Regions from separate parts of the Homo sapiens genome. Here regions 1 and 3 are each linked to region 2. The links come from fine-mapping of genetic effects on gene expression. A gene starts in region 2. Each other region holds a variant in brackets. All regions are shown on one strand. Distances are from middle to middle.

Region 1 (4,239 bases), 61 kb before region 2:
AAGGTCTGGTTCCTAACTATTACGCCTAACTATTCCCTCAAAGTGGCAATGAAAGAACATTCTTTTCTCAGGGAAAAGAACAGTATTCCAGGTTCCAGCATCAGCATCCAGGTACTTCTCTGAATTGCTCAGGATCTGCCGGGCTGAAGCTTCATTTACTTATTTTTTCTTTCCTTCTAATTATAGCAAAATACGTGTAACATAAAAGTAACCATTTTTAGGTATACAGTTCAGTGGCATTAAGTATATTCACAGTGTTGTGTAACCATCACAACCATCCATCTCCAGAATTTTTTTTTTTTTTTAAAGAGTTTCACTCTTGTTGCCCAGGCTGGAGTGCAATGGCGTGATCTCGGCTCATTGCAACCTCTGCCTCCCAGGTTCAAGTGATTCTCCTACCTCAGCCTCCCGAGTAGCTGGAATTACAGGTGCTCACTACCACGCCTGGCTAATTTTTGTATTTTTATAGAGATGGGGTTTCACCATATTGGCCAGGCTGGTCTCAAACTCCTCACCTCAGGTGATCCACCCACTTCGGCCTCCCAAAGTGCTGGGATTACAGGAACAGGCCACCATGCCTGGCCTCCAGAACTTTTCTTATCTTCCCCAAATGAAAGTCTGCACCCATTAAATAATAACTCCCCATCCTGTCCTTCCCCCAGCCCCTGATAATCTCTATTCTATTTTCTGTCTATGAGTTTGACTACTCTAGGTATTTCACATAAATGAAATGATACGGCATTTGTCCTCTCATATCTGGCTTGTTTCACTTAGCATAATGTCTTCCAGCTTCATCCATGTTGTAGCATGGGTCAGAATTTCCTTCCTACTCAAGACTGAGTAATATTCCATTGTATGTATGCACCACTTTGTTTACCCATTTATCTGTCGATGCATGTTCAGGTTGCTTCCACCTGTTGGTGGTTGTAAGGAAAGCTGCTATGAACGTAGGTGTACAAATAAGAGTTTGAGTCCCTGCTTTCAATTCTTTTGGGTATATACCTACAAGTGCAATTGCTAGATCACATGCTAATTCTATTTTTAACTTTTTGAAGATTTGCCATCAAGCTGCATTTCTTTTTTCTGCCTTTCTGATATGGTTTGCCTCTGTGTCCCCACCCAAATCTCATGTGAAATTGTAAACACTAATGTTGGAGGTGGGGCCTGGTGGGAGGTGATGGATCATAAGAGTGGATTTCTCATGAATGGTTTAGCATCATCTCCCTTGGTACTATATAGTGAGTGAGTTCTCCTGAGATCTGCTTGTTTAAAAGTGTGTGGCACCTCCCCCTTCACTCTCTTCCTCCTGCTCTGGCCATGTCAGGTGCACGATCCCTCTTTCCCTTCCTCCATGATTGTACGTTTCCTGAGGCCTCCTGGGAAGCCAAGCAGATGCCAGCCTCATGCTTCCTGTACAGCCTGAGGACCCATGAGCCAATTAAACTCTTTTCTTTATAAATTACCCAGTCTTCGGTATTTCATTGTAACAATGCGAGAACGGACTAATACGCTTTCTTTCCTTCTTTTTCCCAACATCCAGTAAAAGCCCAATCACCTCAGTGGCCAGCTCCACTTTACTTTGGTTCAGTAAACCTTCCTGAATTTCCTGGAAGCCCTCTGGGCTGTGTGTTGCTATCTTGGGCGGTGAAAAGCAATTTTACCCCTCTTTTCATTTTTTATTTTTAAACTTCAGCTGCAGAAACCACCTGATAGAAAATTGCAGACAAATCCTCCTCCCACACAGGAAAACAAGTGTTCAGAAAGTCCAGCTTACCAGCTAATTACAGGCTTTTACCAGGGATTCACGGCAAATGCTAAATTGCAGACCAACCTTACTTTTGTTATGAAGTGTTTGGAAACATGCTAATAGGCTGGGCTTTGGTTCCTCGGCCTAGAGGTGACAGCTCTTTCTCTCAGTGGACAAATAAAGCAGGTTAGAACCTTATGAATCTGAGTTCAGGAGAACTGTAGCTTTGCTGAGATACATACTGGCTTAAGACACCTTTCTCATATTATTCCAGCCAGTACCCTTTATGTAAATTGCCACCCTAGCTGGGATTTCCACTCACAGCTGTGGTTCGGAACAATGAATGAGCAATAGAAATATCTGGGGTGTTTTTAAAAAATAGCTACTTATAGATGCTCAGTGCCTCAGCCTAGTCCAGTTGCTTTAGAGTCTCTGCGGAATGCAGTGCAGCCATTGGTAGCATTTTAAAGCTCTCAGGTAATTCTAAGGTACAGCCAGGGTTGAGAATCCCTGATTTAAGGGGGCAGGCAGGCAATGCTTCCTTCTCCAGAAAGAATATTTTCAACGAGCTTTTAACCAGAGGAGCCTGAACTTCCAAGTCAGGGCCCCAAAACTTACAGGAGAGAAGCGGGTCTTCTGTGAATGGAGAGTACAGGACTTCCCTGACAGCATCAGCTGACCACTGCCCCAGCTGACAGTTGCCACCTGAAGTGCCGTGGGTTGAATAAAAGATGTATGGAGAGGGGGTGTGGTGTGGCTACCCTTGTAGTTTGAGCCTTATGAGGTAACCATATGGAATTCAAGGAATT[C/T]GAAAAAACCTCTGCAACTATATGCAAAATTTTCCATACTTCCATGTATTTTTCTGGAGTTCTAATCACAATCCCTGAAGTTCTGTCATACCCCCCCACCCCCAGAATAAATAACCTCAGCTTTTATCATACTACATCATGCAACAGTATCTAATGCAGTTATTAAAAATGAAAAGTTAAATCCATTTGTATTCATATTGATCTGAAGGCAACGAACACATTCATTGTTAATTAAACCAAAGCAAGTGTCAGTGTGGTATCCATGGAATGTCCTGGTAAGCTCCGCCAGGGCAGGGATTAGGTCTGTTTTGTTCACTGCTCTATTCCCAGAACTTGGAAGCACTGCCTGGCACAGAAGGTGTTTAATACACACTTGCTGAATTCATGAATAATGTTTTAAAGGAACAGAACCCTCTGTATGTGGATATTGTTTGTGTGAACAAGGAAAAAAGTGTGGAATGCTACACAGCAGAACATTAAAGGCATGACTTCAGGGAGAAGGAACTGGAAAGGGGAAGGCATTAAAGGAAGACATTAGGCCAGGCGTGGTGGCTCATGCCTGTAATCCCAGCACTTTGGGAGGCCGAGGTGGGCAGATTGCTTGAGGTCAGGAGTTTGAGACTGGCCTGGCCAACATGGTAAAACCCCGTCTCTACAAAAAATACAAAAAATTATCCAGGCATGGTGGCGTGCACCTATAATCCCAAGTACTGAGGAGGCTGAGGCACGAGAATTGCTTGAGCCTGGGAGGTAGAGCTTGCAGTGAGCCGAGATCATGCCATGGCACTCCAGCTGGGCATCAGAATGAGATTGTCTCAAAAAAAAAAAAGCGGGGAGAAGGATTACACAGCAAGAAAACACTCTGAAATAAACAAAACTGCATGAGGGAGTGAGAAGGTGGTGGCTGCCCCATGTGTGTGGGAGAAAAAAGGAAAACACTAAACTTTCCCTTTAATAACAGTTAACAGTTCTAGAGTGCTTACTATGGGTGGCACAGTGCTCAGCACCGTGTGTTTATTGATCTCACTGAATGCAAATAACAATCCTGTGAAGTGTCCTGTATTGTTATCCCCATTTTACAGCTGAGAAAACCTAAGCACGCAGATCTTGCCCAGGGTCACCAAAGTAGGTGAGTGGTAAAGCCAGGACCCAGACATCAGCTCCCCAGCACAGGCACATAACCCCTGTTCTCCTCTGATTCTCTGTCCTTACACATCTTTTCATGGTGTCACTCATTATAACACGTGTGTGCTACATTTATCATAAAATGTTAAGTAAAATATGAAGTGTCAGGGCTTTCCATGGGGGCTCTCAGTTTCCCCTGGGGTCCTCTCCTCATCTAAGCTTACAATAGGAGGTCCCTTATTCTCAGCAGGGACTTGGGAAAAGAGACTTCATTTTTTATCTGTGTCTTGGTTTAATATACAATAGGCCCCACTACCTGCCTGTCCACCATTTAAGGAGTCAGGGGTGACGGTCTTCTGTCTTGGCCTGAAACCTAGGAGAGAGTGAGGCCCTTGTCTATTTGTAACTCCATCCGGACAGCAGCCATCACAGACTGCATTAGAAGGGATCATTATATCTGCATATGGCAGGCATCCCCTGATTCAACGCAGACTCTATGGGTGACAGGCCTTGAGAAAACCCAGAACCAACCTGCTTCGAAGGGGTCTCAGAGGATAG
Region 2 (4,239 bases):
CTCAATAGCCCCTGGACAACATTCAGCACACAGTGGGTGGACAGTAATGTGACCTTCATTGAACTTGAAGAGAAACTGGCGATTCCACGAAAGGGAAGCCAATTCAGGGAATCTAAGGCAGGAGATGAATGGAAGAGGCTCCGCCAGGTGACACAGCACAGAGTTCCCGGCAGGCTGAAGCGTCTGAGGACACGATGAGGGGATATGTGACCCAGAGGGGAATGGGAGGACCAGCAGCACCCCCAGCTGTGGCTGAGGGGACAAGATGTGAGCCAAGATGCACCCTGGACGTGGGAGTCTGTAAGCTTCTCTGCCCAGCTCAGAGGCGCCAGCGCCAGAAGCAAGCAGCTCAACGGGTCTCACTGCGGGTCTGCCTGCTTGACCTTGGCGCTGACCTGCGGTCACTTCCCTTCTTGCAGAGGAGAAAGGTCTTTTCACCAAGAAGCCCGGCCCACCCCTCCGCCCCCTCCCCCCAAAAAAGGCTGCTTAGAAATTATTTCAGAATTATTTCAGCCCAAGGATTCTTGGGGGACGTTTCTTCAAGGTGAAGAGGGTCCACATCTCCCAGACCCCAATGCAGCGGAGTAAAGTAACAGGCTCCCTTCTCTTCACCAGCGCGCCTCTGGCCTCTGGGTGTCCCCCACCCCTCAGCACCCAGTGCCCAGGAGAGACGACGTCCTTGTCCCTCCTGGTCGGAACAGCTGCCTCAGGCTCGCTCCGCCGGCCAATTAGCCGGAGCCGTCACCACGGCAACGGCAGCTGGCGGGCCGGGTGGCTGGCGCGCCCCGGGCCGCCCTCCCCACGGCCCCTCCCCTGGGGTGGGGTGCCAAGGAGAGGGAGGGGGCAGGGGAGAAGAAAAGTCCGCCCCACCCCCCATTCCCTCCCCAAGAGGCAAGGGCGCGCGTTGCAGAGTACACATAGGACCCTCCATCCCGGGGTTTGGGGGTCCCCAGTCTCTCCTCCCGGGGCGCACCCCTGTTGCTGCACAGGTTGCCCGCGCACGGGCACCCTTTTTCTCGAAGCAAGTTTGTGGGAGCCTAGCCGTGGGCCCTCCCTTCCGCGCGCTCCCAGCCGGAGGGGGCGCGGCACCCCCTACCCGCACCCCGGACCTTGCCCCCAGCCTCAGCCCTACCTGGATGTACGCCATTTTCGCCCGCGCGCACTCACTCCGGCCCGGGCATGGCGCCGCCACGGCCACTTTGCCCTCGCCAACAGCGGAGGGGGAAGAAAGCAAAGGGGGAAAGGAAGAAAAAGGCAGCCGGTGGCCCCAGACGTGACTGGCGTGGCTGATGAGCGGCGCCCGCCCCTCCGCCGGCCGCCCCGTCCTTGCCTTTCCCTGCGTTCCGGCTCTCGGAATCGGGGCCGCCTCCCCGGTTCGGAGATATCGGGCGCCCAGGGCCCCCGCCTCGGCCTCCCTCGCTGTCCCGTGCTCCCCACCGAGGCGCTCCCCAGGCTGGAATAAGGCCGGGGCGCCTGGGCAAGCAGCCCGGGGCAGCTGCGGGGACTGCAGCGACCCCAGCGCAGGCGGGGCCGGAGACGCCGGGGCCGGAGCGCGCAGGAGGCGGGGGAGGGGATGGGAATGGGGAAGGGGGTGGGAGGGGGCGGTACACAGGTCAGCCCATCCTGCTGGCACGGGGGCTGGCACCTACCGAAAGCAGCGCCCCCGGGGCAGCCGTGGAGCCGAGGGGACACAGTGCAGCCTGCCATGAAGTCTGCAGCAGGGAGGGTCCTTCCCATCCAGCCCTCTCCCCAAACTGGGTTGGAAAAACTTTATTCCCGCCCCACCCGACGCGCCTAGCACGGTTGCGGTGAGGCTTGCAGAGGCTGCGTGGATGGGAGCCTCAAGTTAAGGTGGGCGTAGGGCGTCCCAAACGGAGGTGCTGCGTCCAGGGCTGCAGGGGGCGCGCGGAGAGAGCGGAGCGCCCCTTTACCCTAAACCTGCCGGAGTTGCGCCCTGGACGCAACAGGTCTAGCGCGGGGCGGCCCGGCAGCGCCACCCAGCGTCGTGCCCGGCCTCGTGCGCTCCTCTGCCCACGGGCAGGCGGCCGCCAGCGAGCGTGCGCCCCGGGGCGTGTCCACCGCCGCCCTCCTGCCTGTCCTCGTGGCTGGGGCGCCCTGGACCCAGAGGCCTCCATCAAACCTCCCAGCCCAAGGCCTCTGGCTCTCCACTCAGAGATTCGAGGTGGAACATTGCCCTCCGCTGGATTTCTTATTTTATTTTATTTTATTTTATTTTATTTTATTTTATTTTATTTTATTTTATTTTATTTTATTTTTGACACAGGGTGTCACTCTGTCACCCAGGCTGGAGTGCACTGGGGTAATCTTGGCTCACTGAAACCTCCGCCTCCCAGGTTCAAGGGATTCTCGTGTCTCAGCCTCCCGAGTAGCTGGGACTACAGGCACATGCCACCACGCCCACTAATTTTTGTATTTTTGGTAGAGAAAGGGTTTCACCATGTGGGCCAGGCTGGTCTCGAACTCCTGGCCTCAAGTGATCTGCCTGCCTCGGCCTCCCAAAGTGCTGGGATTAGGGGCGTGAGCCACTGCGCCGGGCCGGTTTTCTTTTTAATATGCCCAGTCATCTCCTGTTGCCGGACACCAGCTTATCAGCATTTTAATTTTAACCTCCCAGTGCCTCTTTTTCCTCAGTAAAAACAGGAGAAAATCTCCACCCTGCCTATCCTCCAGGGCTGATTTGTGGGAATAAATGAGAAAATGAATATGGGAGTAACAAAAGATGGATATTCAGATGCATATATTTTTTGTCTAAAAATCTAGCAGACCTATACATTTTTTAGTATGATATATTTAGTTTGTAGCATATAGCACGTAACGCATATTGAGTGCTTATGATTCTGCAGGCATACACGCCTCAACACTTCACAAGCGTTATTTCATTTCAACCTGCAGTACCTTGATCACTCCTATTAGGTAGCACCTGTCCAGCCAGAGTAGGCACTCAGTAATTGTTTTTGTTGCCTTATTCACTCTGCTTCCTGAGGGAGGTGCTATGATTATCTCCAATTTATGAGGGACTGCAGCCCAGACAGGTAAAGCCTCTATGAAGGCCTGACAGCTGGTAGCCCAGGGCACTGACATTTGAACCCACAAGTCCAGCAGTGAACCCAAAGTGGCCACTCCTAACCACTTTGTGGTATTTATCCACAATCTTTCTCCAGCACTGATGGCAAGGCATGCCAGGTGGGGAGTGAGCCTCACAGAGGAGGATGCCTATTGGAACGGGTGCTCCTTGGGGGCACTTGAGGGAGTTCGAGGAATTTGCTAGGTGTTCCCATAAGTAAAAATAGTTAACCCTTTTTCACCTGAGGTCAGGAGTTCGAGATCAGCCTGGCCAACATGGCGAAACTCCGTCTCTACTAAAAATACAAAAAATAGCCGGGCATGGTGGCAGGTGCCTGTAATCCCAACTACTCAGGAGGCTGAGGCTAGGAGAATCACTTGAACCTGGGAGGCGGAGGTTGCAGTGAGCTGAGATCGTGCCACTGCACTCCAGCCTGGGTGACAGAATGAGATACCATCTCAAAAAAAAAAAGTTAACCCTTTTTGAGGTCTGTGTACCAGGCACTGTTTTCAGCCCTTTACACAAATTTTGATCTTTTAATTCTCTGATTACCATGAGGTAGGCACAAGTACTATCCCACTCTTTAGGTGAGAAAAAAAGAGGCATTAAGAGGTGAAGTTGGCCAGGCATGGTGGCTCATGCCTGTAATCCCAGCACTTTGGGAGGCCAAAGTGGGTGGATCACTTGAGGCCAGGAGTTCAAGACCAGCCTACAAAAAGTTTCTTTACAAAATACAAAAATTAGCCCGGCATTGGTGGCTCACACCTGTAGTCCCAGCTACTTGGGAGACTGAGGCTGGAGAATCGCTTGAGCCCAGGAGATTGAGGCTATAGTGAGCTGAGATCACACCACTGCACTCTAGCCTACATGACAGAGTAAGACCCCATCTCGAAAAAAAAAAAAAGAGATGAAGTCATTTGCCCAAGGCGTGTCATGCCAGGCCACTGTTAACTCCTTTAGGAATAGTACCATGTCCAGGAGGCCAAAAAAGAGACCTAGAGACAGTGAACGAGACACAGGGTTTATTGAGGGAACTTACATACAGGGACAATCCAGTGGCAGCTGGCTGGACAGGAGAACCTCTACTGTTTATATAAAAGCATGCAGTTTATGTAGCATTTTCACTTAGCACCCTCCACCTAGCAACTTCCTTT
Region 3 (4,239 bases), 400 kb after region 2:
TTTTTTTTTTTTTTTTTTTCCTCCTTGTGATGGGGTTTGCGGGAATGGGAACAATGGCACAGAGGAAGAGCAAACCAAAATTATCTTGAGTTAGCAGATATCTTTCTCCTGTCTCCTTTCTTCACTAGGAAGAACAGTCTTTGCTGGGCATGGTGGCTCCCACCTGTAATCCCAGCACTTTGGGAGGCCAAGGCAAGTGGATCACCTGAGATCAGGAGTTCGAGACCAGCCTGGCCAACATGGTGAAACCCTGTCTCTACTAAAAATACAAAAATTAGGTGGGGTGCTGTGTGGCTCGCTCCTGTAATCCCAGCCTTTTTGGAGGCTGAGGCTGGTGGATCACCTGAGGTCAGGAGTTCAAGACTAGCCTGGTCAACATGGGAAACCCCGTCTCTACTAAAAATACCAAAAAATAAAACAAACAAAAAAAAACAAACAAAACAAAAACTGGGCGTGGTGGTGCATGCCTGTATTCCCAGCTACTTGGGAGGCTGAGGCAGGAGAATCGCTTGAACCTGGGAGGCAGAGGTTGCAGTGAGCTGAGATCATGCCATTGCACTCTGGCCTCGGGGACAGAGTGAGACTCTGTCTCAAGAAAAAAATAAATAAATAAATAAATAAAAATAAAAAACCTAAAGAAACAAAAAACAAAAATTAGCCAGGTGTGGTGGTGCACGCCTGTAATCCCAGCTACTCGAGAGGCTGAGGCAGGAGAATCGCTTCAGCCCAGGGATGCAGAGGCTGCAGCGAGCCGAGATGGCACCACTGCACTCCAGCCTGGGCGACAGAACGAGACTTTGTCTTTTTTTTTTTGTTTAAAACAAAAAAAAAAGAAAGAAGAACGGTATTGTCTTTGGGTAAGCATAGGCACAGAGTTAAAAAAAAAAAAAAAGAGTCGTGTCTTTGGGACTGAGTGGATGGGCATGTGTTCTGAGTTAGTGTGCCCAGGTGTGGTGAAAGACACGGAGAAACCACTGCTTGATGCGTTCTCTTTTGTTGTTTAAGTTGTGGGCTGCTGTGGGATGGGGTTGCATGTCTGCGTCCTCTTCGAAAAGCACACAATATGGCAAGAGGAAGCTGGAGAGAGCTCCTAGGAGTGCCTCGTGCCAGGTGAAGAGGTTGCATTGCGGGTGGTGGGTAGGTGCCTAGGGAGAGGAGGTCCACGCCTGCTGTCCTTCCAGCACGATGGCTCCAAAAGCAGAGCGAAGAGGTGATGTTCCAACTTCCCAAGGCATCCAAGGGACGGGGCTTGAAGAATGCAGCCTAGCAACCATGTGCGTAAGAATGTGGGGAAGGAGGGCTTGAGGATGAGCCTGAGAGTCAACTGGACTGTGGGGAAATAGTGTAGCCTTCTTTCTTTGAGCTTCAGTTATCTCGCCTGTGGTGATGATGACGATGATGATAAAGATGATGCCATACTTCTATGGCACATACTATGTTCCAGATATTGTTCATATAACTCGTATAATTTTCATAGCAGTTTTACAAGATGAGTACTATTTGTTTTTGTTTTTTTGTTTTTTTTTTTAGATGGAGTCTCGCTCTGTTGCCAGGCTAGAGTGCAGTGGCGCAATCTGGGTTCACTGCAACTTCTGCCTCCTGGGTTCAAGCAATTCTCCTGCCTCAGCCTCCTGAGTAGCTGGGACTACAGGCACATACCAGCTAATTTTTGTATTTTCAGTAGAGACAGGGTTTCACCATGTTAGCCAAGATGGTCTTGATCTCTTGACCTCGTGATCCACCCGCCTCAGCCTCCCAAAGTGCTGGGATTATAGGCGTCAGCCACAGCTCCCAGCCAAGATGGGTACTATTTTTATACCTATTTTATAGAAGAGGAAACTGAGGCATAGAGAAGTCAAGTCACTTGATCATACAGCTAGTGTGTGGAGGAGGCAGATTCAAACCCTGGCTTCGGTCTTAGTCACTGCATTGGCTTCATGGGCTTATCATGAGGATTAAACGCGTGAACATGCTCAGTGTTTAGTTCAGTGTCTGGCACAGGATCAATGTTCAGAAAATCCTAACAGCTGCTATCAGTTTCAGAACCCAAACAAACAGGTGGGACTTTCGCTAACTCT[CTA/A]ACATCACATGTGCTTGTATAATCAGCCACTGTTTTTTTCATGAAAAAAATTTTTTTTGAGACAGGTTCTCGCTTTGTCACCCAGGCAGGAAGGCAGTGGTGAGAACACAGCTCACTGTAGCCTCCACCTCCTGGGCTCAAGCGATCCTCCCACCTCAGCTTCTTGTGTAGCTGGAACCACAGCATGTGCCACCACGCCCAGCTATTTTTTAATATTTTTTTTTTTATTTTTTGTAGAGATGAGGTCTCACCATCTTGCCCAAGCTGTTCTCAAACTCCTGGACTCAAGCAGTCATCCTGCCTCAGCCTCCCAAAAGGCTGAGAGTACAGGCATGAGCCACTGCGCCTGGCTAATCAGTCACTTGTTGTTGTTGTTTTTTGTTTTTTGTTTTTTTGATATGGAGTCTTGCTCTGTCACCCAAGTTGGAATGCAATGGCGCGATCTCGGCTCACTGCAAGCTCTGCCTCCTGGGTTCAAATGATTCTCCTGCCTCAGCCTCCCAAGTAGCTGGGACTACAGGTGCACGCCACCACACCCAGCTAATTTTTGTATTTTTAGTAGAGACGGGGTTTCACCATGTTGGCCAAGATGGTCTCGATCTCTTGACCTCATGATCCGCCTGCCTCAGCCTCCCAAAGTGCTGGGATTACAGGCGTGAGCCTTAATCCCAAAGTGCTGGGATTACGTGCCTGGCCTTAATCACTTTTAAAGGAGAGTGGGGAACATCATGTTTTGCAACTATTTTTTGAACTCTTGGATATTTACTTGGAACAAATAAAAACACTTTTGTACCATGTGAAAGGTAAAATTTGCTCAAGCCGTCCCTCATCCTGCCCTGGCCTGCTTCCACATGCGGCTGGGTGAGCTGACCCCATTCTCTGTTTATTTATTGTTTTTGTTATTGTATTTTATTTTACTTTTTTGAGACAGAGTTTCACTCTTGTCACCCAGGCTGGAGTCCAATGGCATGATTGTGGCTCCCTGCAACCTCCGCCTCCCAGATTCAAGCGATTCTCCTGTGTCAGTCTCCTGAGTAGCTGGGATTACAGGTGCCCGCCACCATGCCCAGCTAATTTTTGTATTTTTAGTAGAGACGGGGTTTCCCCATGTTGGCCAGGCTGGTTTTGAACTCCTGACCTCAGGTGATCTGCCCGCCTCGGCCTCCCGATGTGCTGGGATTACAGGTGTGAGCCACCGCGCCCGGCCCATTCTCAGCTTCTTGATGGCTTCCCCCTTCTGGGACATTGATCACTTATTCATGACATTGACTGGTCATGAGCCACTCCTCCGCCAGCCCTTGGAGGATCCAAGTGATTCACAAATGGACACAAGGAATATGATTAGTCCTCTGTGAGTGATTCTGAGGGGCCGTGGTATAGAGAGAGAGAGGGGAAGGAGGATGGGAAAATGCGGGCAGTTCCCTCCCCAACCCATTCTGACAGTTTGCTGGTTAGAGAAAAATCCCCATGTCAGAGAATTTTTTTCTTTGTTTATTTCCTGTGAAATAGAATGTGGGTCTGGCATTGGGGAGGACTCTAATAATTCATATTTTCTGCTTATTTGGCTCCTGGCTGAACAGGAATTTACATTACTTAATGTCTGGGTTTTTCCTGGGGAATCAAAATAAGTTTTCTATTCAATTATTAAGCAAATTTCACAGCCAAATAATCCTCTTATTTTTACAAGTGGTATTTTCCCTGGCAGAGGGTTTTCTGGCTTCTCTGGGTAGTTGATCCGTCTCCTCTCTTCTGTTTCCTCTGTCCTTGTCTGGCTATGAAGGAAGCTAAAGCCCCTCATTCATGGATTAGGGGCTTCTCAATGGCAGTTGGCAGACTTTGGCTTTGCAAGCTAGAGATGAATCTTTTTCTTCTTTCTTTTTTTTTTTTTTTCGAGATGGAGTCTCGCTCTGTTGCGCAGGCTGGTGTGCAGTGGTGCGATCTCCACTCACTACAACCTCTGCCTTCCAGGTTCAAGCTATTCTCCTGCCTCAGCCTTCCAAGAAGCTGGGACTACAGACATGCACCACCACACCTAATTTAAAAAATATTTTAGTAAATGGCTAATTTAAAAAATATTTTTAGTAAATGGGAGGTTTTACCATGTCGGCCAGGCTGGTCTCGAACTCGTGACCTCAGGTGATCTGCCTGCCTTGGCCTCC

Evidence for each region. PIP is the estimated chance that this variant, and not a neighbour inherited with it, causes the effect.
Region 1: its variant is the best candidate, but not a certain one, in a credible set for the expression of SYT17 in whole blood (TOPMed, PIP 0.50).
Region 3: its variant is the best candidate, but not a certain one, in a credible set for the expression of SYT17 in nucleus accumbens (GTEx, PIP 0.53).

Annotation. Positions count from the first base shown.
Region 1 is chr16:19,226,471-19,230,709 of GRCh38, reverse strand. The region is part of intron 7 of SYT17 (synaptotagmin 17); the gene reads right to left. Among named protein-coding and RNA genes, the nearest start is that of CLEC19A, 57 kb to the left of the region's middle. The variant C/T (reference allele first, on the strand shown) is at 2,557.
Region 2 is chr16:19,165,555-19,169,793 of GRCh38, reverse strand. It overlaps SYT17 (synaptotagmin 17), which reads right to left and starts at 1,554. Exons shown (of 8, transcript NM_016524.4): 1 at 1,133-1,554. The coding sequence starts at 1,147. RefSeq lists an enhancer at 970-1,717 and a silencer at 1,909-2,158.
Region 3 is chr16:18,765,261-18,769,499 of GRCh38, reverse strand. No RefSeq gene overlaps it. Among named protein-coding and RNA genes, the nearest start is that of RPS15A, 23 kb to the left of the region's middle. The variant CTA/A (reference allele first, on the strand shown) is at 2,079.